Homo sapiens: one gene and its partners. The protein of the gene in region 6 interacts with the protein of the main gene of each other region in a pairwise test. Each region holds a gene or a part of one and is shown on either strand. Other genes may lie near its edges. The genes, in order: PLEKHB1, SPTB, GPR75-ASB3, ZHX3, NAA16, SH2D2A and MAP3K2.

What was found.
Region 1: the proteins of SH2D2A (region 6) and PLEKHB1 interact in binary tests that used the Homo sapiens proteins (3 or more experiments, as listed by UniProt).
Region 2: the proteins of SH2D2A (region 6) and SPTB interact in a two-hybrid assay, tested with the Homo sapiens proteins (one large-scale study listed by BioGRID and IntAct).
Region 3: the proteins of SH2D2A (region 6) and GPR75-ASB3 interact in binary tests that used the Homo sapiens proteins (3 or more experiments, as listed by UniProt).
Region 4: the proteins of SH2D2A (region 6) and ZHX3 interact in a two-hybrid assay, tested with the Homo sapiens proteins (one large-scale study listed by BioGRID and IntAct).
Region 5: the proteins of SH2D2A (region 6) and NAA16 interact in a two-hybrid assay, tested with the Homo sapiens proteins (one large-scale study listed by BioGRID and IntAct).
Region 7: the proteins of SH2D2A (region 6) and MAP3K2 interact in a two-hybrid assay, tested with the Homo sapiens proteins (one study listed by BioGRID).

The regions. Positions count from the first base shown.
Region 1 is NC_000011.10:73,649,532-73,653,569, forward strand, and holds part of PLEKHB1 (pleckstrin homology domain-containing family B member 1), read left to right. Parts: intron 1-1,021; coding exon 1,022-1,174; intron 1,175-2,256; coding exon 2,257-2,359; intron 2,360-3,443; coding exon 3,444-3,483; intron 3,484-4,038.
Region 2 is NC_000014.9:64,869,512-64,873,549, reverse strand, and holds part of SPTB (spectrin beta chain, erythrocytic), read left to right. Parts: intron 1-871; exon of another isoform or gene 872-1,228; intron 1,229-4,038.
Region 3 is NC_000002.12:53,709,851-53,713,888, reverse strand, and holds part of GPR75-ASB3 (GPR75-ASB3 protein), read left to right. Parts: intron 1-4,038. UniProt on the Homo sapiens protein: Probable substrate-recognition component of a SCF-like ECS (Elongin-Cullin-SOCS-box protein) E3 ubiquitin-protein ligase complex which mediates the ubiquitination and subsequent proteasomal degradation of target proteins. Recognizes TNFRSF1B.
Region 4 is NC_000020.11:41,202,346-41,206,383, reverse strand, and holds part of ZHX3 (zinc fingers and homeoboxes protein 3), read left to right. Parts: intron 1-1,317; 5' UTR 1,318-1,467; coding exon 1,468-4,038. UniProt on the Homo sapiens protein: Acts as a transcriptional repressor. Involved in the early stages of mesenchymal stem cell (MSC) osteogenic differentiation. Is a regulator of podocyte gene expression during primary glomerula disease. Binds to promoter DNA.
Region 5 is NC_000013.11:41,359,650-41,363,687, reverse strand, and holds part of NAA16 (N-alpha-acetyltransferase 16, NatA auxiliary subunit), read right to left. Parts: intron 1,658-4,038; coding exon 1,529-1,657; intron 958-1,528; coding exon of another isoform or gene 904-957; exon of another isoform or gene 813-903; intron 1-812. UniProt on the Homo sapiens protein: Auxillary subunit of the N-terminal acetyltransferase A (NatA) complex which displays alpha (N-terminal) acetyltransferase activity.
Region 6 is NC_000001.11:156,806,849-156,810,348, reverse strand, and holds part of SH2D2A (SH2 domain-containing protein 2A), read left to right. Parts: intron 1-541; coding exon 542-688; intron 689-858; coding exon 859-1,146; coding exon of another isoform or gene 1,147-1,212; exon of another isoform or gene 1,213-3,003; coding exon 3,004-3,171; 3' UTR 3,172-3,174; exon of another isoform or gene 3,175-3,500. UniProt on the Homo sapiens protein: Could be a T-cell-specific adapter protein involved in the control of T-cell activation. May play a role in the CD4-p56-LCK-dependent signal transduction pathway. Could also play an important role in normal and pathological angiogenesis.
Region 7 is NC_000002.12:127,384,981-127,389,771, forward strand, and holds the start of MAP3K2 (mitogen-activated protein kinase kinase kinase 2), read right to left. Parts: upstream 2,996-4,791; 5' UTR 2,472-2,995; exon of another isoform or gene 2,458-2,471; intron 2,260-2,457; exon of another isoform or gene 525-2,259; intron 1-524. UniProt on the Homo sapiens protein: Component of a protein kinase signal transduction cascade. Regulates the JNK and ERK5 pathways by phosphorylating and activating MAP2K5 and MAP2K7. Plays a role in caveolae kiss-and-run dynamics.

The DNA of each region.
Region 1 (4,038 bases), on a different chromosome or scaffold from region 6:
ACCCCGGGCTGGACACAGAACGAGGCACAGAACAAAGTGAAAAATGCCTTTGTGCTTTGGAATCCACAAAGCCCTAAGAAGCTCTCTTATGTCTTTGCCCTTCCCTGTTAAGATTTCCAGTTGCAAAATGTCAGAAGCTCGGTCTCGGGCTTCTAGACCCACCTCTGACCAGAGTCATGACCTGAGCAAGAGCTATCCTGGGGACCCCTGGGACAAGCAGCCCCATGCCCCATACCCCTGCCCATTCTCAGTTCATTTAGTTCAGCAAACACTGAGCCAGGTCTCCCTGGGTGCCAGGACCTGCGTGGGGAGCCATAGCCCCCAGAGTGGTACAGGAGGCAGATGCTACACAAATAACCATCACACAAGTCAGAGATGAGAGATAAGAGGCCGGGCACAGTGGCTCATGCCTGTAATCCCAACACTTTAGGAGGCTGAGTTGGGAGGATTGCTTGAGCCCAGGAGTTTGATACCAGCCTAGACAACATGGTGAGACCCACTGTCTCCAAGAATACCTACCTGGCTAATTAAAAATTAGCCAGGTGCAGTGGTGCGTGCCTGATGTTCCAGCTATTTGGGAGGCTGAGATGGGAGGATCACTTGAGCCCAGGAGGTTAAGGCTGCAGTGAGCCATGCCTGTGCCCCTGCACTCCAGCCTGAGTGACAGAGCAAGACCCTGTCTCAAAGACAGAGAGAGAGAAGATGCAGGCTTAAGGTAGGGAGAGGTCTTTGCCCTTGAAGAGACCTGGGGCTTGGCCTTAGAAGCTTCCAAGTAATGGGCCCAGTCACTCATTTCCCTGTTCAGCACGTGTATCGAGCTTCTGCTATGCATCAGACCCAATGGGAGGCAGGAGGTGAACAAGACAGAAAGAGGTCCTGCCCTCATTTCAGGGGGTAGACAAGAAAAAGGTGGTTGTAACACTAGGGACTGAGGCTGAGGGGACTTGGGAGTCTGTCTGGGGCTTCTATTCCCAGCAGGCTCTGGGATCAGCCTGCCTAGTGCATCTGGAATATCGTACAGGCTCCATCCTCCGCCGCTGGAAGCGGAACTGGTTTGCCCTGTGGCTGGACGGGACCCTGGGATACTACCACGATGAGACAGCGCAGGACGAGGAGGACCGTGTGCTCATCCACTTCAATGTCCGTGACATAAAGATCGGCCCAGAGTGCCATGGTGAGCAGAAGCCCCTTCCTCTGTGGCACCGTGACTGTGGGCAGAGCCTCCCGCTGTCTCCGAGAACACTTGCTGTTGGAAGTCTTTTTGCAGCTTTCAGAGGCATTTCACAGACATTGCTTCTGAGCCTCTGTCAACTCCAATTCAGTTTGGTGTGAGTTAAGAAATAGGTCCTTGGCTGTGTGTGGTGGCGCATGCCTGTAATTTCAGCACTTTGGGTGGCTGAAGCGGGCGGATCACTTGAGGTCAGGAGTTCTAGATCAGCCCGGCCAACATAGCGAGACCCTGTCTCTTAAAAAAAAAAAAATTGGTGAGATGCGGTCACATATGGCTACTGGGGAGGCCGAGGCAGGAGAATTGCTTGAGCCCAGGAATTCAAGGCTGCAGTAAGCTATGATCCCAGTACTTTGAGAGGCATGTAGATTACTTGAGTCTAGAGTTCAAGACCAGCCTGGGCAACATGGCAAAACCCCGTCTCTACCAAAACAAAAACAAACAAAAATTAGCCGGGCATGGTAGTGTGTACCTGTAGTCCCAGCTACTTAAGAGGCTCAGGTGGGAGGATTGCTTGAGCCTGGGAGGCAGAGGTTGCAGTGAGTGTTCATGGCACTGCACTACAGCCTGGGGGACAGAGCTAGACCCTGTCTCAAAAAAAAAAAAAAAAAGAAAAAGAAAAATCAGTCCTTTAGTGCCTTTCTCCTCTGTGCTGTCTCAGAGGTGAGCCAGGCACAGTTCCTGCCCTCCAGGCGCTCGGTACTGGATGAAGACGAAATGAAATTAGGAGGCCCAGAGAAGCGAAGTGGCCCAGAGTCACAGCAAATCTCCACATTCCTCCACCAAGGCCCAGGCCACAGTTCTAACAGGGTAACTGGGAGGTGTGCTGAGGGAAGCCTCAGCATGGAAAGGTTGGAAAGGTTGGAAACGTAGAGTGGAATCCCTCAGAGAGTATATGGGATCAGAGGAGGTTGGCAGTGGCCAGTAAACAGAGCCCAGAGAAGTCAATTCCTATTCCTGTCCCTGCTTTACTGGGGGGACCTGGGGCTTGTGCCTGTGGAAACCCATATATGTGTGTCTGCTTCCAGATGTGCAGCCCCCAGAGGGCCGGAGCCGAGATGGCCTGCTGACTGTGAACCTACGGGAAGGCGGCCGCCTGCACCTCTGTGCGGAGACCAAGGATGATGCCCTGTGAGTCACTCCCAGGAGAGGATGGGGTGGAATCTCGGGGAAAGTTACCATGTGCCCCCTTCTCATTGGGCCTTCTGGTTCTCTGACCGTAGGAAGAGGGCACTAAGGCCAGTCAGCAAGGGAGTCTTATTGGAGGCGGGTGGAGTGGATTTGAAGGGCTTGTGGTGACTGGCATGGCACACAGTGAACTCCTCATGTGGTCTACAGTGAACTCAGGATTGCTGAGGGGGAGGTGTGCACACCTGCCTCAGGTATCTGGTTCCTGGTCTTTAGCGGCCTCTGAGGTGAGCCCTCACCTGAGGGTGATGCAAAGCAGCAGAGCAGCCTAGTGGCACCCTTGCTCCCTTCTTAGAAGATGCCCTGGTGGGGGACTCTGATCTGAGGGGTAGCCCTGGACCTGCCTACAAAGGCAGTCAGCTGCGTCCCAGGCAGGGGCACCCCAATGTCAGATGCATATCCACGTGGCCAGCCTGGGTGTGTCCTTCTCAGGCACCATCTGCTGGCTCACATTCCGTCCCTTCCTACCCTCTGGCTAAGGGGTACATGGCCTTTGCGCTGGAGGAGAGTGAAAGAGATGGGTGTGTGGGAGTGGGGGAAGCTGAGCTCCAGGCAGACAGCACAGAGCCGCCTTGTCCAACCCAGCCAGGTGCCATGGCAACCAACAAAGGCCCCATTGTCCCGTGTCTGCTGGGCCTTCCTGAGGCTCTGGGGTCAGAGCTTTGGGGAAGTGTTTTGTTTGTAGATTTGGGATGTGGAGGGGGACTGGGCTACAACACCCACCCAAGAGTGTCAGAATCTGACATCCCCTGAGAGACCACCCAAGCCCAACCGTCCACTGTATAGATGAGGAAACTGGAACTTCTAGAGGGGACGAGAAGAATGAATTAGCCTAACTTAGTGCTCCATCCATGTGACTGGGGCAGGGGAGGGGTCACTTTTGTCTTCCTGAGGGAGACAAGAGATCTCTCCTTTCATGAGAGACTTGGGCTTGAGGCTGGGTTGGAGAGGAAAGTCTAAAATGTGGGGGCCCAATTCACCCACCCCCAAACTCCCTCCTCATGGTCTGGTGGGATTTGCTTTGCAGAGCATGGAAGACAGCACTGCTGGAGGCAAACTCCACCCCGGTGAGTCTCCCGTTCTCTCCCCCTTTCCCCACCACCTCCATGTGCCATGGAATCATGAGTGACTCAGACTCGGTCTCCACCTGCCAGAAGTTCTCAGTCTTATGTGGATAGGTTTCTGCAAACTCTGATGCCTGAGTCCCAAGTGTTCGGGGAAAGGATAAGGGAGAGCCAACTGGTGCTCAGAGGAGAGAGAGAAGCCTCCATGGAGATTTGCTGGAGGGAGTGGCACATGAGCTGGGGAGAAGGAACTGTCTTTTATCGAGCAACTATTATGTGCCAGGTGTGGTGCAGGTATCATTCCAGCTGCTCCTCACAACAGTCCTGTGAAGTTGGGGTTATTGTTCTCTCTCTGCAGATGATAAGACTGAAGCTCATTCATCCGCACAACAAATATTTACTGAGCTGCTACTATGGGCCAGGTGGTGTGCCAAGTGCCAGGGATCAGAGGTGAACCAAGGAGATATGGGCTCTGCCCACCTGGACTCAGCCTAATGAGAAGCCAGACATGGAACAACTAATTAATTATTCCATTTCAATAGTAATAACAGCTCTGAC
Region 2 (4,038 bases), on a different chromosome or scaffold from region 6:
GCATGAATTAATGGATTCTCAGTAGCATGCCATAGATAAATGAAGGGTTCATCTGCCCGTTAATTGATGTTTTGGGTTTTTCATTCCTTTACCCCAAATTTACTGGGCATTATTGTGCTTATGCTTCATTTTGGACTTCAGCAGCCTCTTTTTGTCCAGTGATCTTGAGGGCCTTGATTTGTATGTCAGTCTTCAACAAATATTTACTGAGTTCTCATTTAATTTGCCAGACATGCTGTAGGCCCAGGGAATGTAACAGTGAATGTGGCAAAAATGTCTGAAGTCGTAGAGTGCACATTGTAGTTGGGGGAGAGAGGAACTAAATGACAAGCAACAGACAAAAATATATATTGTAATTTCAAGTGCTAAAAAGAAAAATAAAGCAATATGAAGGGAAAGAAGGGTGGTTCTACTATTTCAGGTAGGGTGGTTGGGAAAACACTATCTGATGGGGCTTCATTTGGGCTGAGACTCAAATGAAGTGGGGAGAGAGGCATGGGATGTTTGGGAGAAGAGATTCAGGTTGAGTGGTAGTCTGTTCTCACACTCCTAATAAAGACATACCAGAGACTGAGTAATTTATAAAGGAAAGAGGTTTAATTGAATCACAGTTCAGCATGGCTGGGGATGACTCACAATCATGGCAGAAGGCAAAGGAGGAGCAAAGGCATGTCATACATGGTGGCAGGCGCATGTTCAGGGGAACTGCCCTTTATAAAACCATCAAATCTCATGAGACTTCTTCACTATCACGAGAACAGCACAGGAAAACCCACCCCCGTGATTCAGTTACCTCCCACCGGGTCCCTCCCACGACATGCAGGGATTATGGGAGCCGCAATTCAAGATGAGATTTGGGTGGGGACACAGACAAACCATACCAAATGGGAAGCCCCCAACGTGGGGCCACTGCTGTGTCCAAGCAATAGCAAAGAGGCCAGTGTGGCCTGAGTGCAGGGTGTCATGGGGAGAGCTAACCACAGTGCTGGAGAGAAAAGCGGGTCTTGATGGTGCAGGCTTTGTGACCTTTGAGTTTTAGTCCAAGTGTCATAGGAAGCCACTGGAAGTTGTGGGCAGGGGAGTGACTTGTTGGGATTTGTGTCTCAAGCAGATCTTTCTGGCGGCCCTAAGGAGGATTGATTGTGGGGCACAAGAGTGGAGGCAAGGAGTCCCATGAAAGCTACTGCGGTGGTTCAGGACGAGAGGATGGATCAGGATGATAGTCCTGGTGAGATGCAGTTGGGTTCTGAGTATAGAGATTATGAGATTTGGATATAGAGGATGAGAGAAAAAGAATAAGATGATTCCATTGTTTTTGGCCTGAACAACTGGATGAACAAAAAGGTCGTTTACTGAGATGGTGATGTATTTTATCAAATGTACCATGGGCTATTTTTTTTTAATTTCTGTTTTTGTCGAGGTGTTGACTTGGAATAGTCTTGGCAGACTTTTCATTTAAATACACCAAAAAGGAGATGTTTTTATTTTGGGATGATTCATGACATCTGTTTGAAGCGAAGCTTTAGATGTGCTGTGTACTTTGTACTGTTACTTTTAGATCAGTCCCACAACGTTTATACTATGTGATGGAGATTAAGATATGGGAGAAACAAGATTGAAATATATTTCACTTTATTTTTAGAAATGTTTTGAATTGGCTGGTTAAAGCCCAAATATTTTTTGATGCTTCCTGGTTGTCATATTTAAAAAACTTTTTAAATTATAAAATAAACTCATGTACGTGGTTAAAACATATATCCATATTATACAAGGGTATACAATGAAGAGTAAAAGTCTTCTCCTAACTTCAGCCCTATTTCTAAGAAGGTACCACTGTCAACAGTTTCTGTGTATGCTTTGAGAAGAATTCCATTCATGTGCAAGCATTTGGCCTGATACATTTTAAAGTCATAGCTTTAAGCTAGCAGCACCACGTGTTAGGTTTCAGATTTAGTAGACTTTGTAGTCACCTTGGTAGCCCTCAAGTTAAGCGACCTGGAGTCCACTTTCTATCAACTAAGGATCTCCCTCTCCAAACCATCCCACACTGAACCACTGTGTTCATCATATAACACCCCTTCTCAAAAGCCACCAGTGGTTCTTCTCTGGGTAGAGGTAGAAATCCAAACTCATAAAGTTGGCTTTTAAGGAGCCATTCTATTCTGGCACCAGTCTCTTTTTTTCTACTCTTTTACCACTTTCCATCACAAACCCTCTACTTAAACTAAGTTTGTCCACTTCTGCTTACTGAGTCCTGACCATTTCTCCCAGATTTGGAGTGTTTTCCATCAGAACTTGGGTTCGAGGCTGTGTCTTCGTCCTGGAACACTCCACTCCACAGTAATCTCTCCCTTCTTCAAACTTGCTAAATTAGGGCTAGATACATGCACCCTATTTGAACATAATCACAAATTCTTTTATTAACTTTCTTTGTATATGTGTATTATTTGCTCAAATATATGTGACATAAATTTTACCATTTTAACCATTTTTAAGTGTACATACAGTTCAGTGGCATAAGCACATTCACATTGCTGTGCAGCCATCACCATCATCCCTCCCCATCATCATGAAAAAGATGGACGTTTTTCATCTTCCAAAACACAAGCACTGTGTCCACTAAACACTAACTCTCCATTCCCTCTCCCTCCATCTGTCTATGGACACTTGGGTTGCTTCTACTCTTGCCTATTGTGAATAATGCTGCTGTGAACATGGGTGGGCAGATATCTCCTTGAGACCTTGCTTTCACTTCTTTTGGACATATACCTAGATGTGAAATTGCTGGATCACATAGTAATTCTATTTATAATCTTTTAAGGAACCCGTCCATGCAATTTTAATATTTCCCCTTGGTATTTAACATCTCCAAAGGGAAGGGCAAAAATTTATTATCCTCATTTTGGGGGCCAAACTGAACTTGAGAAGTGTTTGTTTCAGAACACTGTCTTTGGGTGATAGTTCGTCATCAAAGTTCTTGAATTTGTTCATTTATTAGTGTGCCTGTTTTTAGATTGTAGACTTTTAGAGGACAGGCAGGTGATGTTTAATTTGCTTTGTAGAGCATGTAGCCCAAGCTCAGGTGGGGAAGGGTGTAAATATTATGCGATGTTTTATTTCAGCTAAAAAATCTCCTTGAGCTGGATGACAAGAGTCTGGGTTGCTTCCAGCTCCTTTCCTCTTGCTGTTTGCCCTTGGGTGAAGAACTTCCTCTTTCTCTGACTTTTTTTTTTTCAGGGCTTTTTGTGTGTGTGATTGTGATGGTGCCTTAACATTTATTATTATCCTTAAAATTTTCCTTGTGGATTCCTCTGTAAAACTTACATGTTGCCTTCTCTTTGTAACCTTGCCTGACAGCCCCTCTTCCTTACCAGGTCCTGGGGTAGCGCTGATTGCTTCCTCCTTTGTATTTTTACAGTACCCTTTTCACTCCTTTCTTACAGGTGGATCATCTTGTTTTGTAATTGTCAACTTGCCTTCTACACTGTTAGTTCAAGCTTCTTGCAATGGGGAACTGAGTCTCATGCTTAAAAACAAAACAAAACAAAACCTCTGCACCTAGAGCCATGTTTTATACATGGAGGGGAGTGGCTCAGAAATATTTGTTGATTAAAAAATTAGGCTGGAAACATCAGCTCATGCCTATAATCCCAGCACTTTAGGAGGCTGAGGTGGGCAGATCGCTTGAGCCCAGGAGTTTGAGACCAGCCTGGACAACATAGCAAGACCTGTCTCTACAAAAATTAAAAAGAAAAAAAAAAAAGCAGGGCATCGTGGCACGTGCCTGTAGTTCCAGCTACTCAGGAGGCTAAGGTGGGAGAATCACGTGAGCCCAGGAAAGTTGAGGCTGCAGTGAGCCATGATTGTGCCACTACATTCCAGCCTGGGTGACAGATTGAGACCCTGTCTCAAAAAAAAAAAAAAAAAATTTAAAAAATCTGACCAAGCACAGTGGCTCACACCTGTAGTCCCAGCTGTTTAGGAGGCTGAGGCCAGAGGATTGCTTGAGCCCAGGAGTTCAAGGCTGCAGTGAGCTAC
Region 3 (4,038 bases), on a different chromosome or scaffold from region 6:
CGGGCTGGAGTGCAGTGGCACCATCTTGACTCATTGCAACTTCTGCATCCCAGGCTCAGGTGATCCTCCCACCTCAGCCTCCAGAGTAGCTGGGTCTACAGGTGTACACCACCACTCCCAGCTAATGTTTTTATTTTTAGTAGAGATGGGGTTTCTCCATGTTGCCCAGGCTGGTCTTGAACTCCTGGGCTCAAGCAGTTCCCTTGCCTCGGCCTCCCAAAATGCTGGGATGTCAGGCATGAGCCACGATGCCTGGCTTTATATTATTTTTGGATGTGAGTCTAAATAATTAAGTTTTTAAACGCCCCCAAATTAATTATTTTTCTAATCTGTCATAATTCTGTGAAATAGACTAAGTGAAGAATTACTGCTGCCTTGTTAGTGTCTGGCCAGTAACTTTGTCTATAACACTCTTACAGTTTTAAAACACTAAGAATAAAGCTGTGTGTAAGAACAGCCATATTGAGTAATATCTGGTCATCCAATAATGGAATAAGTTATGAAGATAGATGCTATTGTGTTTAATGACACAGAAGAGGTTGCAGGCATACCTCAAATTGTATTGGCCTTCTTGAATTCACTATTATGAATCTCTATTTAATTTGAGTAGTTATCAAGAAATTATTTACTAAGCTTTTCAGCCTTTACTATCTCTTAACATTTGCCATGTAAAATTAGTAGTTCACTATAATTTGTTTCAAGTTTAAGCTTACACGTTTTAGTAGAGATAGGGTTTCACCAGCCTGGTCTCGAACTCCTGGCCTCAAGTGATCTGTCTGCCTCCAGCCTCCAAAAGTGATGGGATTATAGGTGTGAGCCACCCCATCCGGCCTCTTAAACTTATACATTTTAGTTTGAATATTTGGGTTTTGGTTAATCTGAGTATCTGGGGCCCACTTTATGTATAACTTTCATGATTTCATAGGATTTTCTTGTGTACCCCGTTAAGTTTTGTCTTTTTAAACAGAAGAGCCCTAATTACTTTAGTTGACCTTCAGTGAGGTTGCACTGATAACTTTTAGTTGCCTTTCTCTATCCCAAATCTTAAGTCCGTTACAGAACTGAACATTTCTTATTAGACCAGAATATAATGATTTTGGATTGCGCGCGCGCGCGCGCCTGTGTGTGTGTGTGTGTGTGTGTTCAATATGATGATGGTCTTTTTTGGCCTTCATCTTATCTTTTGGATGAACAATGTTTTTGGTCCTTCTGGTCACAGCAGCTAAGCTCACGCCTCATCACCTTATAAGTGTAGTTTGAATTAAGCCATATAATGTAGTACCCCTGTTAACTCTGAAACACCTTAAAATTAATGATATTCCTTGGGAGCTGGGCAGTATGTTTCATGCCTTCTGTAGATTCGGATAAATGAAATTAGGTGGGAAAGATCTTAAATAGGTTTCTGGATTTTCCAAGATTAGTTGAAATTTTAGGGGGCAGACCCTTTTTTCTCCTTTGATTTCTACAAAATCAGTCAGTAACACTAATTGACCATTTTGTTATGTAGAGAGCACTAAATAGATCCTGTTAAACTTACTGAGGAAGCTGAAACATACACACGATCCTTTAGGAATTTAAAACCTAATGGGAAAAACAGTATTTAGTGGCATTTACTTCACTATCTTCTGCTGTCTTTGGCAAAGAAGCGTTTTTAATGTATTTTTTTTTTTTTGTATTTTTTTATAGAGACTCATGGAAGGGAAGGTTCCTATTTTTTTCTGCTGTGTCTGGGATAACTGCAAATAGGAGCTATTATCTCATTCTTGAATAGTGATATAAATGATTTTTTTTCTTTTCCTTTCACAAGTACTCCAAAGTTGTATTTTTAAGGAACTCCACAGTTTGGTTTGCTTTTTATGTCTCAGTTACTCTGTAGAATTTTTTTCTGTGTAAACTTCAGTGATGCTAAGAAGTTCTTAACATGCAGTGGAGTAATTCCACTACAGCCTCTCTCTTTCTCTCTAATGACTACAAAAAACTGTGGTCAAAATTCAAAAAGAAACTACCTGAGGACTCTCAAAGGAACAAAAGCAGATAGATTATGAAAGAGAGTGGTAACTTGGTGAAGTGACCCACATGAAAACGAATTTTCCCATTTCTTTTTCCTTTTTTTTTTTGAGACTGTCTCGCTGTGTTGCCCAGACTGGAGTACAGTGGCGCGATCTGGGCTTACTGCAACCTCCATCTCCCGAGTTCAAGTGATTCTCTTGTCTCAGCCACCCAAGTAGCTGGGATTGTAGGCATGTGCCACCATGCTCAGCTACTTTTTGTATTTTAAAAGAGATGGGATTTCACCATGTTGGCCAGGGTGGTCTCAAACTTCTGACCTCAAGTGATCTGCCTGCCTCGGACTCCCAAAGTGCTGGCATGAGTCACCGCGCCTGGCCTTCTTTTTCTTCTGCTGTGTTGCCCTGAGGGCCAACCCTGATCTGGAGCTGAGTAGCACCAGTGGCACCAGCAGCTAATATCAGTCAGTAACATTAATTGACCAGTTGTTTAATATAGAGAGCACTAAATAGATCCTGTTAAACTTACTGAGGAAGCTGAAACATAGACACAATAGAAAGCCTGTTTTTCTGGTCAGAGGAATCAGGTAAATGGAACCCTGTGGGCCAGAGAATGGTAGGGAATCTTGGAGAAGAGAGAGCTTGGAGAAGCGGATACCCTAATTGTGCATATGAATTTGCATATTCCTGACTTACCCCAAGCTTTAAATGCACAAGATAGACCCAAATTGTTTTTTATTTTGTTTTGTTTTTGAGACAGGATCTCATTCTGTTGCCCACACAGAGTGCAGTGATATGATCATGACTCACTGCAGCCTCGACTTCCCTGGGCTCAGGCAATTATCCTGCCTCAGCCTCTTGAGTAGCTGGGACTACGGTTGTGCGCCACCATGCCTGGAATTTTTTTTTTTTGTATTTTTTGTAGAGACAGGGTTTGCCGTGTTGCCTAGGCTGGTCTTGAACTCCGAGCTCAGGTGATCTCCCTGCCTTGGCCTCTCAAAGTGCTGGGATTACAGGCGTGAGCCACAGCACCCAGCCAACCCAAAATGTTGAAAGTAAGATTTGAACTATCATCAGAGTCTCAGGCTAGACCCTGAGTGGCACATTCATGGGTCCAAGCTTAAAGCAGGAAAGTCAAGGCTTTTGAGAACTGAGCTGACGTTGGAACCACTGTATAAGGTAAAACAGAAATTGCAGTTTGAACCTAACTAGGTTATATGCTTGCTGAAATAAACAAACCAAAAAGCTAGTGTTCTTCAAAGGATTATAACAAGACCCAGGACTCAGAATTTATACAGCATAACATTCACAATGTCCAGGAGACAACCTAAAATTATTTGACATATGAAGAACTGATAAAACATTACTAAATCTCATGGGAAAAAGCAATTAATAGATGCCAGTCCTGAGATGGTCCAGATATTAGAAATATCAGATAATTGAAAGCAGCTCTTATAATGGTGCTTCATGAGGCTAACACACTGGAAAAAATGAAAAGGTAGAAATTCTCAGCTGAGTAGTAGAAACTATAAAAAAGACGGAAAAATACAATAATCTGCAATGAAAAATTTACTACATGGACTCCATAGCCAAATGAAAGATATAGGAAAGAGTAAATTAACTTGAAAGTAAACCATTAGAAATTATTAACAAAGGGGAAGACATGCTGTCTGGCAGCTGGAGCGTGCAGACTGGCGTGGCACAGCCATGCAGCTTCTGGAGTTTCTGTTGGTTAGAGATTCAGGAGTAGCTTGGTGGGCAGTTCAGGCTTGGAGGTTTCTCTTATAGTTGCATTAAATATCAGATGAAGCTACAGTCATTAGCAAGCTTGACAGGAGCCAGGGGATCAACTTCCACAGAGGCTCACTGACATGGATCACTCATATGGCTGGGTGTTGGCAGGAAACCTCGGTTTCTCTCTATAAAAGCCTCCCCACAGGACGGCTGCAGTATCCTCATGGCATGGTAGCTGATTCCCTCAGAGGAAGAGGTCTAAGAGAGAACAAGACGGAAGTCACAGTGACCTGGTTCA
Region 4 (4,038 bases), on a different chromosome or scaffold from region 6:
GATGGCTTCGAGCATCCTCCTTTAGCTCAGAGAAGTTTGTTATTACTGATCGTCTGAAGCCCTCTTCTCTCAACTCATCAAAGCCATTCTCCATCCAGCTTTATTCCATTGCAGGTGAGGAGCTGCGTTCCTTTGGAGGAGAAGAGGCACTCTGATTTTTAGAATTTTCAGCTTTTCTGCTCTGGTTTCTCCCCATCTTTGTGGTTTTATCTACCTTTGGTCTTTGATGATGGTGGCGTCCAGATGGGGTTTTGGTGTGGATGTCCTTTCTGTTTGTTAGTTTTCCTTCTAACAGTCAGGACCCTCAGATGCAGGTCTGTTGGAGTTTTCTGGAGGTCCACTCCAGACCCTGTTTGCCTGGGTATCACCAATGGAGGCTGCAGAACAGCAAATACTGCAGAACGGCAGATGTTGCTGTCTGATCCTCCCTCTGGAAGCTTCATCTCAGAGGGGCACCCAGCTGTATGAGGTGTCAGTCGGCCCCTACTGGGAGGTGCCTCCCAGTTAGGCTACTCAGGGGTCAGGGACCCACTTGGGGAGGCAGTCCAACTGTTCTCAGATCTCAAGGTGAGACCACCCTTTGAGTGGTCGTACACAGAAAATGTATAGCTTGCTGGGCCACAAACTGGTTCTGTGGATTCCCTGACCCTCTGACCTTTGGTTTCATCTCAGTAACAGTGGTCCGGGATACATAACAGCCAGTAACTGTAAGGTGATCGCTTTTCTGTGGCCTGGAATAAGTGCGGCAGGCAAGGAAAGGCTACAGAGGCCTGGCTCTTACAGCAGCCGGTCTTCCTAGCCACCCCCGCCCACCCCACCCCTTCCGTTCACACACTGCAGCTAACTTGGTCCCTGGGCCTGGCTTGGGACAGACAGAGGCGTCATCTTGTTCTCATATGCGGGAAGGCTATGAAAAGAAAACCGCGTGTTGGTCCAAAATGTAAACAAGAATTACACTAGGATCTTTTGTTCTCACTCTGACATGGTCAGAATTAATTTGGAGGTCCAAAAAGAGGGCGTTTTGTTTTTTAATCTGAATTACTTAATGCAGGGATATGTAGGGGGTGGTGGGGAAGAAACAAAAATACGTTGCTTAAGTCTATCAGTTGGTATTGGACCATCCCCAGGTCATTCTTCAGGGTCCAGTTTTTGTCATTAGGGGGTTCCTAACTTAGACTTCATATCCAAGTTGCTGATTAAACTTACTGTGAAAAGACCTAGATGGTAGAAGGCAAGCAGTGGAATGTGTCTGGGTATCCGAGAAATATACAGAAAGCACTTAAGAGAACTTAATCATTTTTTTCTCCCTTTCCTTAGATTGAATAGGGAAAACCTGCTTTCTGCAAACAACTGAAAAAGCTGCATTTAGAAACTGTTTCTTTGGCCCTCATCGAGAAGCTGGAACTTGTATTGTTAGGCCCCTTATGGGACAAGCTCTCAACTGCTGATCACCCAGTGATTGTCACCATGGCCAGCAAGAGGAAATCCACCACACCATGCATGATCCCAGTGAAGACTGTGGTGTTGCAAGATGCCAGCATGGAGGCCCAGCCCGCTGAGACCTTGCCTGAAGGACCCCAGCAGGATCTGCCCCCAGAAGCATCTGCTGCCAGCAGTGAGGCAGCACAGAACCCCAGCAGTACTGATGGCTCTACACTGGCCAATGGGCATCGGAGCACTTTAGATGGCTATTTATATTCCTGTAAATACTGCGATTTCAGATCCCATGACATGACCCAATTTGTGGGACATATGAACTCAGAGCACACAGACTTTAATAAAGACCCAACCTTTGTATGCAGTGGGTGCAGTTTTCTGGCAAAAACCCCTGAGGGGCTTTCCTTGCACAATGCCACATGTCACTCCGGGGAAGCCAGCTTTGTGTGGAACGTGGCCAAGCCAGACAATCATGTGGTTGTGGAGCAGAGCATCCCTGAGAGCACCAGCACTCCTGACCTAGCGGGTGAGCCCAGTGCTGAAGGGGCTGATGGACAGGCAGAAATCATCATTACCAAAACTCCAATCATGAAGATAATGAAAGGCAAAGCTGAAGCCAAAAAAATTCATACACTCAAGGAGAATGTCCCTAGCCAGCCTGTGGGTGAGGCCTTACCAAAGCTGTCGACTGGAGAAATGGAGGTGAGAGAGGGGGACCATTCCTTCATCAATGGGGCAGTTCCAGTCAGCCAGGCATCTGCCAGCTCTGCAAAAAACCCCCATGCCGCCAACGGGCCCCTGATAGGAACAGTGCCAGTTTTGCCAGCTGGCATAGCACAGTTCCTCTCCCTCCAGCAGCAGCCCCCAGTGCATGCCCAACACCATGTCCACCAGCCACTGCCCACGGCCAAGGCCCTTCCCAAAGTGATGATCCCCCTGAGCAGCATTCCAACGTACAATGCAGCCATGGACTCTAACAGCTTCCTGAAGAACTCCTTCCACAAGTTCCCCTACCCCACCAAAGCCGAGCTCTGCTATTTGACTGTGGTGACCAAGTATCCAGAAGAACAGCTCAAGATCTGGTTCACAGCCCAAAGGCTGAAGCAGGGGATCAGCTGGTCCCCTGAGGAGATTGAGGATGCCCGGAAAAAGATGTTCAATACAGTCATCCAGTCTGTGCCTCAGCCCACAATTACGGTTCTAAATACCCCACTCGTCGCCAGTGCTGGCAATGTCCAGCATCTCATCCAGGCCGCTCTTCCAGGTCACGTTGTGGGGCAGCCAGAGGGTACAGGAGGGGGACTTCTGGTCACTCAGCCATTGATGGCCAATGGGTTGCAAGCAACAAGTTCCCCTCTCCCCCTCACGGTGACATCCGTCCCCAAGCAGCCAGGTGTGGCACCCATTAACACTGTGTGTTCAAATACAACGTCAGCTGTGAAGGTGGTCAATGCGGCCCAGTCGCTCCTCACGGCCTGCCCCAGCATAACCTCCCAAGCCTTCCTTGATGCTAGCATCTACAAAAATAAGAAATCTCATGAACAGCTGTCAGCTCTGAAAGGGAGCTTCTGTCGGAACCAGTTCCCAGGGCAGAGCGAAGTTGAACATCTCACAAAAGTGACGGGCCTCAGTACCAGAGAGGTGCGGAAATGGTTCAGTGATCGTAGATACCACTGCCGGAACTTGAAGGGCTCCAGAGCGATGATACCTGGAGATCACAGTTCCATCATCATTGACTCTGTGCCAGAGGTGTCCTTCTCCCCATCGTCCAAGGTCCCTGAGGTAACCTGCATTCCGACAACAGCCACACTAGCAACCCACCCTTCTGCCAAACGACAATCTTGGCACCAGACTCCTGACTTCACACCAACCAAATACAAGGAGAGAGCCCCTGAGCAGCTCAGAGCCCTGGAGAGCAGTTTTGCACAAAACCCTCTTCCTCTTGATGAGGAACTGGACCGCCTGAGAAGTGAAACCAAAATGACCCGACGAGAAATTGATAGCTGGTTTTCAGAGAGACGGAAAAAAGTGAATGCTGAGGAGACCAAGAAGGCTGAGGAGAATGCCTCTCAGGAGGAAGAGGAGGCTGCTGAGGATGAGGGTGGAGAAGAGGATTTGGCCAGTGAGCTAAGGGTCTCTGGTGAAAATGGCTCTCTGGAAATGCCCAGCAGCCATATCTTGGCAGAGCGCAAAGTCAGCCCCATTAAAATCAACCTGAAGAACCTGAGGGTCACTGAAGCCAATGGCAGGAACGAGATTCCAGGGCTGGGTGCCTGTGACCCTGAGGATGATGAGTCAAACAAACTGGCAGAGCAGCTCCCAGGCAAAGTGAGCTGCAAAAAGACTGCCCAGCAGCGGCACTTGCTGCGGCAGCTCTTTGTCCAGACACAGTGGCCAAGCAACCAGGACTATGACTCCATCATGGCCCAGACGGGTCTGCCACGGCCAGAGGTGGTGCGCTGGTTTGGAGATAGCAGGTACGCACTGAAGAACGGCCAACTCAAATGGTACGAAGACTATAAGCGAGGCAACTTCCCACCAGGGCTACTGGTCATTGCCCCTGGCAACCGGGAGCTCCTGCAGGACTATTACATGACACAC
Region 5 (4,038 bases), on a different chromosome or scaffold from region 6:
AAAAATGCTTTTTACCAATTAATTTCTTGAACTATGTCAGTAGATTTTCTGACATTACAGAATTTTTTTCCATGCAACTCAGCCAAAATCACTAAAAATTTAAGGGAAAGTATAATCTAAATGAAACTCAGTAATGGAAGATCCACTTATCATATTCTAAAAATTCTCAAAATTTTAAAAAACAAAGCAATATAGTCATCAATGTTAGAAGAAATGGAATTTAAGTTCAAGAAGTTCAGAACTATAATGATCCTTAGGATATTCAAATTTCATTTAAACAGAAAATTTGGTAAGTTTCTAGTTATGGTCTTGCTGAAATTACTAATTCGTAAGTGCCTAGCAGCCTCTTCATAAGGGAAACAATTTACCTCTCACTGAGAATGTCCTAGTTAATAAAAATGTATCTTTCCTTAATAACAAGCAGAATGCTCTTAAAATAATGGTCCTCTAGGGAGTGTAACAAGCTAGTGATCTGTGGTTTTATGAAGGAAACAAGAGCCTGATTTAAACTAGAATGCTTGGGTATTTCACCTATCATCCCAAGGGCTTTATATTTTTCAAGGAGAAGATGAGGAGGATTTTCCCCAGAGATACAGCCATCAAGCCCAGGCTTAAAAGGGCATGAAAAACAAACAAACAAAAAACAAAAACAGAGCAAAAATTAGGTTATTTCTAAAAATGCTTGGGTATAATTCTAGTTCCAGTCCCCATCAAAAGCCACCCCCTAAAATTTAGCCTTCCTTGTGGGTAATCTCAGAAATTTCACGTGGGAAAAAGGCCAAAGTGACTGCCACGGTGCAGACATCAGGCTCACCTGACTACGATGCCTGTGGTTCTATACTGCGTCAGGATGGGAACAGTGGTGCCGATTGCCCCCACAACTGAGGGCTGCTGAGGACTGCCTCAGGGGTGCATTTGCGGCTCTTTTCCTCCTGTGGTCCATGTGGAAGGAGAGTGCTTCAGAGATGACAAAGAACAGGAAAACAAAAATTCACACAAAGGAAAAGAAAAGTCCCCTCACTAAGGCACATCACACAAATAATCCTAAAAGCAAGCAATAAAATAAGCCTGCAAACTGGCCATAGATTGTTATACAGAATACTGAATGTGAGAGCAAATATCCTGGGAAGACAAACTGGAGAGAGGCTGACTGCGGACCAGATCCTGATGTTTTAAAGGGGAAAGAGGTTGCCATCAGCTGTGTGTCCTCTTAGGGTGGTGATGAATATCAAAATAATGGCCTAATTAGGGAACATAAATTTTGAATTTATGTTAATAGCAATAATTGTTTACTAACAATCTTTTTCCTTCAGACAAAAATATATAGACATGTCAAAAGCATAATCACTTGAGGATCAGTAAAGCAATCCATTGTTTACAACTTCTGAATGTAAAGGTTAAAGATCAAGAATTTTTTTCACAATGAAGCTCCCAGAGAAGTTAGAAGAGGCAGATGATCCTGTGTAGAAATCTACCTGCTTTTTATCACCTTACAGTGAAAACTGAAGTCGAAATTCTAACAACTTACCCTTTCTACTTCATGACATTTTTTCAAGGCATCCCCGTATCTCCCCAGACGCTGATAAGCTGAAATGCATTCTGTCTGAAACCACATACACTGCATTTCATTTAGATTTTCCATGGCAGATGTTCCTTCCTGAAATGGAAGCATTCAAAACTATAGAGAGCAAACAATGAAAGAGATCCTAAAAATCATTTCCTCTTTACAACTAGGGCTACAGTACTATTATGACAATAGCAGCAATTAGCAAATATATCAGTATGTTTCCAAACATGGTTTTATACTACAATAGTCTCTCCTTATCCAAGGTTTCACCTTCCATGGTTTCAGTTACCCACAGTCGACCATGGTCTAAAGATATTAAAGGGAAAATTGCAGAAATAAACAATTCATACGTTTTCAACTGCATGCCATTCTGAATACTGTGATAAAATCTTGCACCATCCCACTCTATCCCACCCGGAACGTGAATCATCCCTTTGTCTAGTACATCCACACTGTCTGCTACCTAACTGTCACTTAGGAGCCATCTCAGTTATCAGATGGAAAACCCACATATACATAACGTCTTATTTACCCAGCTCTGCTGGGGTAGTCAACACTCTTCATAAAAAAGACTCCAAATTACTAAATCTTAGTTTTTAAACACCAAAGTTTTTATTTCAACTATTTAAGAAAGCAGTCATATGAAGTACTGCCTATCTTCTGCCTTTCAAGCAAAAGCTATTTCAGCCTTCCTTGCTGACTCGGGGTCACTGTTACGTATATTCAGCATTTATCAAATCTGTTAGTAATAGCTGCAGGCCTGTTTTTTGGTTTCCCAGTGTCCCTCCTCCATTGTCACTTTCTTTGTGCCCATGTGTCTGCTTCTATCAGCATCACCTGTTTCATGACAACTCTTCTACTTTAATATTTCTCCTTTGCAGTGGGCTGACAAAACCAAATAACTGAATTTGTTAATTCAGGCTCAATAAAAATTCTGAGGGGAGTGTGAGACATAAATTAACGAATTTTAAGTGCAAGGATACTCAAGTTTTGTCACAGTTTAGAAGAGACATTTAAAATATATTTTATATGACCCCAGGAAAGGATGCAAAGATACACTTATATAAATGATTTCAGTCTACAGTTTTTCCTCACATTTTGTGTATCAGTTCAATTTTCAGAACACATTAAACGTCTAAAAACTAGTTATCTCTGGGTGAACAGAATTATTGATGTATTTTCTGTCTTCATTATGGTTGTGTTATATTTTCCATTTTGTTAATGGTCACATATTTTTATAAGAGGAAATCTATATTACTTTTCATTTCAAAAAGTTTATCAACTAGAACTATCCAACATGTATCAGCAACTTTGTACAAAAGTTCTAAACTGAAAAATCTGCGAGAAGGAAATATGCGCCCTTCACTCATTTATTAGTAAGCAGATATATCCTGATTATTCAGGGTCATTTGCAGTTTTCTTCCCCTGCCTCATTATGTTGTTCACCACATATTATGGATTTGCCTGGCCAACAAACTAGTGTGCATAAAGTGAACAAGCTTGCCATACAGCATGGCAACTTGTCAAAAGTGGATGATCAGAGGCAGTTATGATGAGCAAGCTGAGCCACAGATTTTGGTGACTATTCTCCTTAAATAACCAACTCCTCTCACCTTCTTTCTCATTCTCCTGTGCCTTTAAAGACGCATCCCAGTGTCACTGGGCTTTCTGTTTCTTAAAAATCACTGAACTTCTTTAAGTTTTGCATAGATTTAGTATCGCTTATCAGAATTGTCTGGAACCAGAAATGTTGCAAACCTTCTCAATTTTGGAATATTTGCATTATACTTAGTGGTTGAGCGATCCCAAACCCAAAAATCCAAAATCCAAAATGCTCCAATGAGCATTTCCTTTGACCATCATACCAGTGCTCAAAAAGTTTCAAGTTTTGGAGCATTTTGGAATTTGAATTTTAGATTTGGGATGCTCAACCTGTATACTTCATATTTAATTGCATTTTACTTCCTATCGCTACCTTGGCCTTCCATGTGGTACTTTTCTCTGAAAACATAATTGGTTTTATGTTTATTCCTTGTACTCTCTTCTTAATTTCAAACCTGTGATATAGTGGAAAGGGCATTGAAGACTTTGAACCTAGTGCTATTTACTATGTGGTAGCTGGGACTATAGGCACATGCCACCATGCCCACCTCAGTTTTTCTTTTATGCTTTATGCTTTTGGTGTCAAGAAATGCTTCCTACCTCAAGCATAAAGAATGCTTCTTTATCCTGAAGATAAACTCCTATATATTTTCTTCTATAAGTGTAAGGTTTGCTTTCCATATTTGATCTTTAATCCACTTGGAACTGATTCGTGTACAGTGAAATTTTCTATTATATTAGATTATATTATAATTAGTTTATCCTAAGCTCCTTTATATTTTCTTGTATAAGTGTGAAAGGTTTGCTTTCCATATCTGATCTTTAATCCACCTGGAACTGATTCGTGTACAGTGACAGAGAGGGATATT
Region 6 (3,500 bases):
AGTTTAATGCAGCCAAGTGTGGTGGCTTACGCCTGTAATCCTAAGACGCAAGAAGGCTGAGGTGGGAGGATCACTTGAACCCAAGAGTTCAAGACCAAGCCTGGGCAACATAGTGAGACCTCATCTCTACAAGAAATGAAAACACAATTAGCCGGTGTGGTGGCACATGCCTGTAGTCCCAGCTACTTGGGAGGCTGAGGCAAGAGGATAGCTTGAGCCCAGGAGGTCAAGGCTGCAGTGAGCTGAGACTGCACCACCACACTTCAGCCTGGGCAACAGAGTGAGACTCTATCTTAAAAAAGAAAAACTTTAATGCTAGATATGGCCTGTGACCAGAGCTTACCACTGCCTCCATCCAACCCTGGGTCTCCCTGCCGTCACCACCCCCTCTTCCTCATCCAGGGAACCCAGCCCAGGCCAAATTTCTGTGCTCCTCCCCCTTCCCCCATCCTCCACTTAGACTGGATTATTTTGTCCTCCTGATCACCTCCCCCACCCCAACGCTCCACCGAGTGCCTCAGACCTCCTTCTTTCCCAGCAGACTCCTGAGCCTGCAGGACTTTCCCTGAGGACCGAAGAATCAAACTTTGGAAGCAAAAGCCAGGACCCAAACCCCCAGTACAGCCCAATCATCAAACAGGGGCAAGCCCCAGTCCCGATGCAGAAAGAGGGGGCCGGGGAGAAGGAGGTATTGGGCTGCAGGGGCTGAGGGAGTGGGAGGACAGGCCTGCGAGGGGGTGCAGGCAGCGGGGAGGAGGAGGGGCCTAGCGGGGGCAGAGGCTCAGGCTGGGAGTTAGGCTGGGGCTTTAACCCTGCCTCCCTCACCCCACTCCTCCCTGGCCTCACCTTCTCTCCCAGCCCTCCCAGCTGCTCAGGCCCAAGCCTCCCATCCCCGCCAAACCTCAGCTGCCCCCAGAAGTCTACACAATCCCTGTTCCACGACACCGCCCGGCCCCACGCCCCAAGCCCTCCAATCCTATCTACAATGAGCCTGATGAACCCATAGCTTTCTATGCCATGGGCCGGGGCAGCCCTGGGGAAGCCCCCAGCAACATCTATGTGGAAGTGGAAGATGAGGGCCTACCCGCCACCCTTGGGCACCCTGTCCTACGGAAGAGCTGGTCCAGGCCTGTCCCAGGAGGCCAGGTAAATGGGTATGCAGGGAAAGGTAGGTGCAAGAAGGTCTCCCTGCAGGTAGATGGGGGAAGGTGAAGAAGGTGTTCAGAGTGGATGCCTGGGGCAGGGTAAGGGGCAGAGGTGTGAGGTGATGTGGGAAGAACAGAATGATCCAGGCACCAGCCTCCCTTCTCCAGGCCCAGAGGCTGCCCCCTCTTCTCCCCAGAGTCGCTCAGACCTCATCTTTGTCAAGCCCCCATGCCCTCCTATCTCACACAGAAAACAGAGGCCCCCAGGCAGGGTGCCCCTCCACCTCCCACATCGAGGCTTTTTTGATCTGCGTCCATCTTGTCCTGCAGGCCCTCTTCAGACGCACCTGGGGCTGACCCCACCCCGTGCCTCTCTGGCTCTCTCCCTTGGCCTTCACGGCCCTGCTGTCCTGGAGAAAAAGAGCACTTGGGTTCCCTTATGTCATCTCAGTGAGCTCAGGGGAGGGGGACCCTGCTCTCCCAGCCTGCTTCTGTGTACTCCCTGTCTCCCTCTTCCTTCTCCCCAGCCCTAAGTCTTCTTGCCTACCCTTCAAGTCAGTACCTCATGCCATGGGTTAGCCCCAGCAGCCATCCCACCCTCTCCCTCGGCCTCTGCGGCCCTCCCAAAGCCCTTCCCCAGCCTCCCTCCTCAGACCCTTCCCCATCCTCCCTCCTTGCTGGTGCCCCAGGCTCCCTGCTCAGCCTGAGCCTGCTCGCGCTCACCCACACCCCTGCCAACGTCTGCTGTCCTAGAGCTAACGTCACCTGTCCATATCTCCGTCCAAACTTTTTTCCAAGCTTCTGGTCAGTTCCCCCCAGCATCCCTGAGCCCCTCAAACTCAACACGGCCAACAGCGCTCTCACCCTTGCCCTCCAAACAGCTCGGTCCCATGTTCACTGTCCTGATTGCTAACTCTCCAGCTACCCAGCTAGCCAAGCCAGAATCCCAGGGCTCCCTCAGCACAGCTCCCTCTTTACTCCCCCAGTAAGCCACTCATTCCTGCTGGATCTCTTCCTAAGTATATTTTTCCTTCCCCCAGCTCCAGCCCCCATCATTGGGGTCTGGCTTTGTCACCCAGGCTGGAGTGCAGTGGCACAATCATAGCTCACTGCAAACTTGAACTCCTGGGTGCAAGTGATCCTCCCACCTCAGCTGAGATTACAGGCTCGAGCCACCTCACCTGGCTCCCAAGAGCTTCTTAACTGGTTTCCTAACCACCATTCTTGCCACTTCTGATCCACTCTGCACCAAAGAGCCAGAATGGTCTTGCTGAAGCAGCTGCCTGGCCCATGAAGCACTCTAGACTTGGGTTGGGTGGGGGGTCTCACCTCCTTAGCCTTACCACCAGCCACTCCCATTCTCCTAGAATGATTCACATTTCTCTAAACTCACCAAGTGGTTTCAAGCCTCCTGGGGTTTGCACCCGCCAGTATCTCTGCCTATAGCAACTTCCTGCAACCTCATCCTCCCGCTGCCTGGCAACTTTCTAATCATCCTTCAAGACCAGCTTTCCCTTCTCAGAGGCCACCCCCTGTGCCTTACACACACCTGCCATGCCACTGATCACCTGAGACATCCATCTCCTCCCATCTCCTTCTCTCTGTCCCTTCCCTAGTTTAGAGTGTGAGTTCCCTGAAGGGAGGGGCTGGGACTTACCCATCTGTTTCCAAAGCACCCAGCCCAGTGCCTGGCACAGAGCAGGTGCTCAGGAGATGTTTGTTGAATTAATGAATGAGAGGAGTTTAGATACCCTCTCTGGAAGCCAAAGTCTGTTCAGATCAGATGTCTTGAGACTGCAAGTACACCTAGGAGGCAGAGGGTAGAGGGTGTGACCTAGAACTGTCCTTCTCTCTGCAGAATACAGGTGGCTCCCAGCTGCATTCTGAGAACTCTGTGATTGGGCAAGGCCCTCCCCTGCCCCACCAGCCCCCACCCGCCTGGAGACACACCCTCCCCCACAATCTTTCTAGACAGGTGCTTCAGGACAGAGGACAGGCATGGCTTCCCCTTGGGCCTCCTCAGTAGGCGGTAAGTCTGAGCTTGGTGAGGATAACTTGGAGCATCAGGTCCAGAGACCTTCACACACACCTGGCACACTTCTCAAGAAATGTGGATGGAATAAACCATAGGTGTTCAAAGCTGGAAAGGAGCTCAGCCATCATCTATTGCAAGGATGGCAAAGAGGTGTCATCTTGCATGCCAACTCCAATCCATTGGTCGTGGCTGCCTAGAGTGCTGCATTGGAAAGGATGTTAAGGTCATATCTGAACTCAGCAGAAAAAAAGCACATGATTGATTAGTGATGTCTGCCACGGGTAAGAGCGGGAGGATGAGCAGCATTACATTTGTCCTTA
Region 7 (4,791 bases), on a different chromosome or scaffold from region 6:
ATGTGAATATTATTGAAGTAGCAACAAAGGACTTAGATTACAAAAACTTAGTTGATAAAGCAACGATAAGCAACTTAGATGATAGGTGATAAGCAATTAGTTGATGAAGGGTTTGAAAGGACTGACTCCAATTTTGAAAAATGTTCTATGGTGAGTAAAATGTTATCAAACAGTATCACATGCCAGAGTGAAATCTTTCCTGAAAGGAAGAGTCCATCGATGCGGCAAACTTCACTAATGTCTTACTTTAAGAAATTGCCTCAGCCATCCCAAACTTCAACAACCACCCCTTATCAACCATCCTTACTAGTCAGCAGCCATCAACATGGAGGCAAGACCCTCCACCAGCAAAAAGATTACAATTCCCTAAAGGCTCAAATTTCTTTAGAAATTTTTAGCAATAAATAATTTTTTAATTAAGGTATATACTTTTTTTAGACATAATGCCATTGCACACAATAGACTACAGTATATTGTAAACATAACTATATGCACCGTGAAACTAAAAAGTTTATGTGACTCACTTCTTTTCCTTTATTGCAGTGGTCTGGAACCAAAGCCACAATCTCTCTAAGGTATGCCTGTACATGTACCTATAGATAAAGCAAATATGGCAAGATAACAACAAATGTTTAATCTAGAGGGTCAAGATACAAGTGGTTTACTATTACCAAATTTTCTGTATGCTTGAAATTGTTTGATAATAAAAAGTGGGAGGTGGGGGGAAATAGCTCCAATTCTATAGGGAAAGAGAAAATCAACCTGAAACCAACGCTGTAGGAAATGCAGAGTATCAAACATGACTTTATTTTAATACAGCACCTGTTAGTTTAACCCTTTGGTACCAATAAAGTAAACTAGAAACAAAAGCTCCCCCTAAAACATTGCTTATAAGACTCAGTCTCTAATGCAATCCAATTATTTAAGATAAGCCTTTAACAGCTAGTTTCTCAAAAGAGGCACATGGATAACCATTCTATAATGATATCATATACAACATAATTCAATAAGATTCAACATGTTTATATTTTAACCAAACAACAAATCAATCTGTAAACCATCCACATGTTAACTTTGTAATTTCACCTTTTCTCCACAGAGACTGCAAGACCACAAATTTTCTTCAACTTGATAATATACTAGGAAAATTACAGAGTAATATAACTGGGCATCAATAGATTTGTTAAACATTTGCAATTATGCATAGAGCTTCAATTACTCAAAGGAAATGTATCGACTTTTTTTCAGTACAGAGCTCTGGCTCCTTATTTTTTCCTCTCACCATAGTTTTAAAAAATACAAAACTCATGCTAAAATGAGAATTTTCAGTTAACTTATAAACACTGACTAGTAGCACTCCATACAAATGAAAAAGAATCACACCATCAAACTTCCTACGATATTCTACGCATTAAAATTTGACATCGAACTAAAAAAGATTGCATAAGACAACGAACAAATCACTAAATTGCCACATAATCCAGCAACAAATTTTGCAACAAGGAAATCTCAAGCAAATAACCCAACTGTGAGTTCCCTTTGGGCATCAAGGTCAAACTACAAAAGTAAATTTGTGACTTTTCAAGATCTATGCAGTTTTACCAAATGTATTTATTTTTTGTGAGAGAATAATTTTTTTCTGTCCAGTACTAGTACATAAAAAGTAAAGGTATCTGAAGCCATCTTTTAAATTTTTTTTAAAGCCAAGAAAATGATTTGGCAAAAGATATCGAAGAGCTTACGTTAGGGAAAACTAAACTGTATCTGTCTATGTGTTTAGAATTTATCCCATTAAAGAAACTGCCCAGTTAGTCTCATTTTCTAAACGTATTTATTTTTTGCAAGACGAGAAATACAGTCTTACAAAAAGACATCTGCATATTCGAACCAAGCCTTCCTGGATTACTACCTTCATGACCTTGGACAAATGCCTTAATCTCTCTGAGCCTCAAGTTTTCACCTGCAAAATGGGGCAATTTACCCACCTCATTGAGCTGGGAAGATGAAGAGAGATAATGCATGACAACTGCCGGGCGCAGACTAAGAGCACCCTAAGTGCTACCTAAATATTCCGTAAAGAGAAAAGGGGGAAACAACCTTACATCAAAAGATTACCACACTGTGACAGTGCAAAGACAAGCACTTTTTCGCTTACTGCATGTACCATTTCTGCTTCATCCCAAGACCAGATGCAACCTTTCTTCTAAAATCTCTGCAGGGTACGTGTCTGACAGCTAACACAGCCCAGCAGCCTACTTCGCGCTGACCTGGGCTTTAGGACTGGATGCAGGGGGCCCAAGGTCCGCCCTCCCGCAGCTAGGCAATCACCCAGCGAAATCTCCGCCCCTGGAGCGGCGCTTAGGCCGCCGCCAGCCCCCCTCCCGGCGCCCAGCCCGCGGCCCCCGACACACACGCGCGCACACACACACACACACACACACAAGCGCGCGCGCACGCACACACGCACGTACCGGCTGCTCCGCAGGGACGTAGAGAGCCGCAGGCCCAAGGAGGGGCCGCCCCCGCCGAGCCCGCCCCTCCGCCCCAGCGCGGCCTGTCACCGCGGCCCCAGGTCGGGGGCTGCCGCAGGGCCCCCGGGGACCGGAGGGGCGCGCGAGGAGTCGGGCGCGGGCCTTGGGGCCAGGCCCGTCCCTCTTTCACATGAAGCCCGGGCCGGGCGGGGTGGCGGGCGCGTGAATCCTCGCAGCCGGCCGGGTCCTCCTGGCGCTCCTCGGCACTTCTAGCCGCTGCAACCCCGAGGCCCGCGGGAACTGGGCAGGAAAGGAGGAAGCCGCGGGCCCGCGTCGCTAGAGACCGGAGAAGAGGCGGGAGTGGCGACTCTGCGGACAGGGGCGCCGAGCGTCCTGGTCGTTGTTTTCGTCGCCGCCGCGGGCCGTGCAACCCCCGAACGCTGCGCCCAGCGGCCGCGGCACCCTCGTCAGGCGCCGCCGCTGAGGGCAGGCAGCCCGGCAGCCACTACACACGGACCCGTGACGTCGGGCGTAGCGCGGCGCACGTCACGGCCGCTCGCTCGTGCGCGCGCACCCCTCCGCCCGGCGGTAGCGGAACCCGCCGCGGGCGCGCGCCCGGCCCAGGGGAGTGGGTCGGCGCCTGCGCAGAGGCCCGCCACGCCCACACACAGGCCACCGCCCCCACCGGCCGGACGGCGCGGGGATTCCCAGTCCTGGCTCCGCCCCGGCCTCGGCCCCGCCCCCGCCCCTGCCCCGGGGCAGCCTGTGCTGTTCCGTGTGCGCGGCGCATACGCACCTGGGTTGTCTCGAGCCTGCGGTAGTGGCCAGATCCCAGACATCCGAGTAGATCCCGTGAAAAGGTCTCCCACGTGGGCTGTGGACAGGGCCCAAGGGTAGCAGAGCTAGCAGAGGCAGTGACGGACTGTGTGGCAGGTCATTTGCAAGGAGAAAAGCCGTCTGCCTCTTAATTTGTGGCTCAAGTTTCAGAATTTTTTTCCTGAGGGACTTTAGAAATTACTTCAGGCTTGCCACCTAACCTTAAACCACCCCCTTGGAGACTGGCTAAGTGTTATTTGTGTTTTCTGTTTAGTTCTTATCACCATCGATACTTGGTTATGACTGGTTGTGTACATTGGTTAGCCCAGCAAGTATTACTTCTCCAGCTTAACAGATGTGGAAACTTAAGCCCAGAGACATGAGTTGACACCCCACCCCCAAAGCTAGAGTCTAAAACCCTTTCTTTCGCTCCTCATCTCCCACAGGATAAAATGCAAATTAATCAGACTAGTGGTGAGGCCCTCCGTGGTGTGACTAACCTGCATCCCGACGTTTTCACCCTACTTTGATCCAGAAAGCACCTTTCCGCCCCATCTCTTCTCCTTTCCTTAAATACCCCTTACAACTTCCTGTACCATTCTTCCCTGTTCAGCTTCTTCTTGGTTTCTTCGTACATTCTGGATCCACCCCTTTCATGCATATTCCAGACCACATTTCCACTGGAGCAGTTGAAATGAGAGAGATGGGAATGGGACTCACCCGAACCAGAGGTAAGGAGCTACCCAACTTGGGCTCTGAGGGTCAAGGGAGCTGGCACTTGTGGGGCAGAGACTGAGGGAGAAACTGTTGTGTAATGTCAAAATATCTCTGGGTTTCTTCCAGGAATTTTTATTACAGACCCATTAACAGAGGTGTCAAAGTCACAGGAACAAGGATGTGCACCTCAGAAACACAGAGGTCAGTGGAAAATCAGTTTGCTTCTATTTGTTTAAAAAATGGGGGACTTATGCATAAATCTAAGACCTTCTTGAATCTAACATTCTAAGACCTGTATGCCACAGAAAGGAGGGTCTCAGAACGCCGGAGGATAGTATTTAAATCTTAAATATCTATATTGTTCTCCACAGTTACTGGGTCACCACATAGCAGGCATTCAATAAAAACGTGTTTGTTTACTAAGTAATCTAGAGATAAATTTTTTCCCCTCATAGTGCTGCTCATTTCTCCACTCCCTTCCCTCACTTACCACCCCGGGGACTTCATTCACCTCTGGGTTCCTCAGAAACATCCCGTGGGTATAGTTATAGTAGCTATTCTTTCTTTTTCGCCATTCTCCTTTTATATTGGTGACTTTTCCTCTTGCTTAGATATTAAATCTCTGACATCTTTGGTTATTTTAGTATATATGATTACAAATTAGTGATATTGGGATTTTTTTATTGATGAAACCATCATTCAATGAATATTTTTTTGCCTTCCTACTCTGTGCCTGGGATTGCAGTGATAAAATTATATAGTCCCCACTGCCCAGGAACTCAGAATC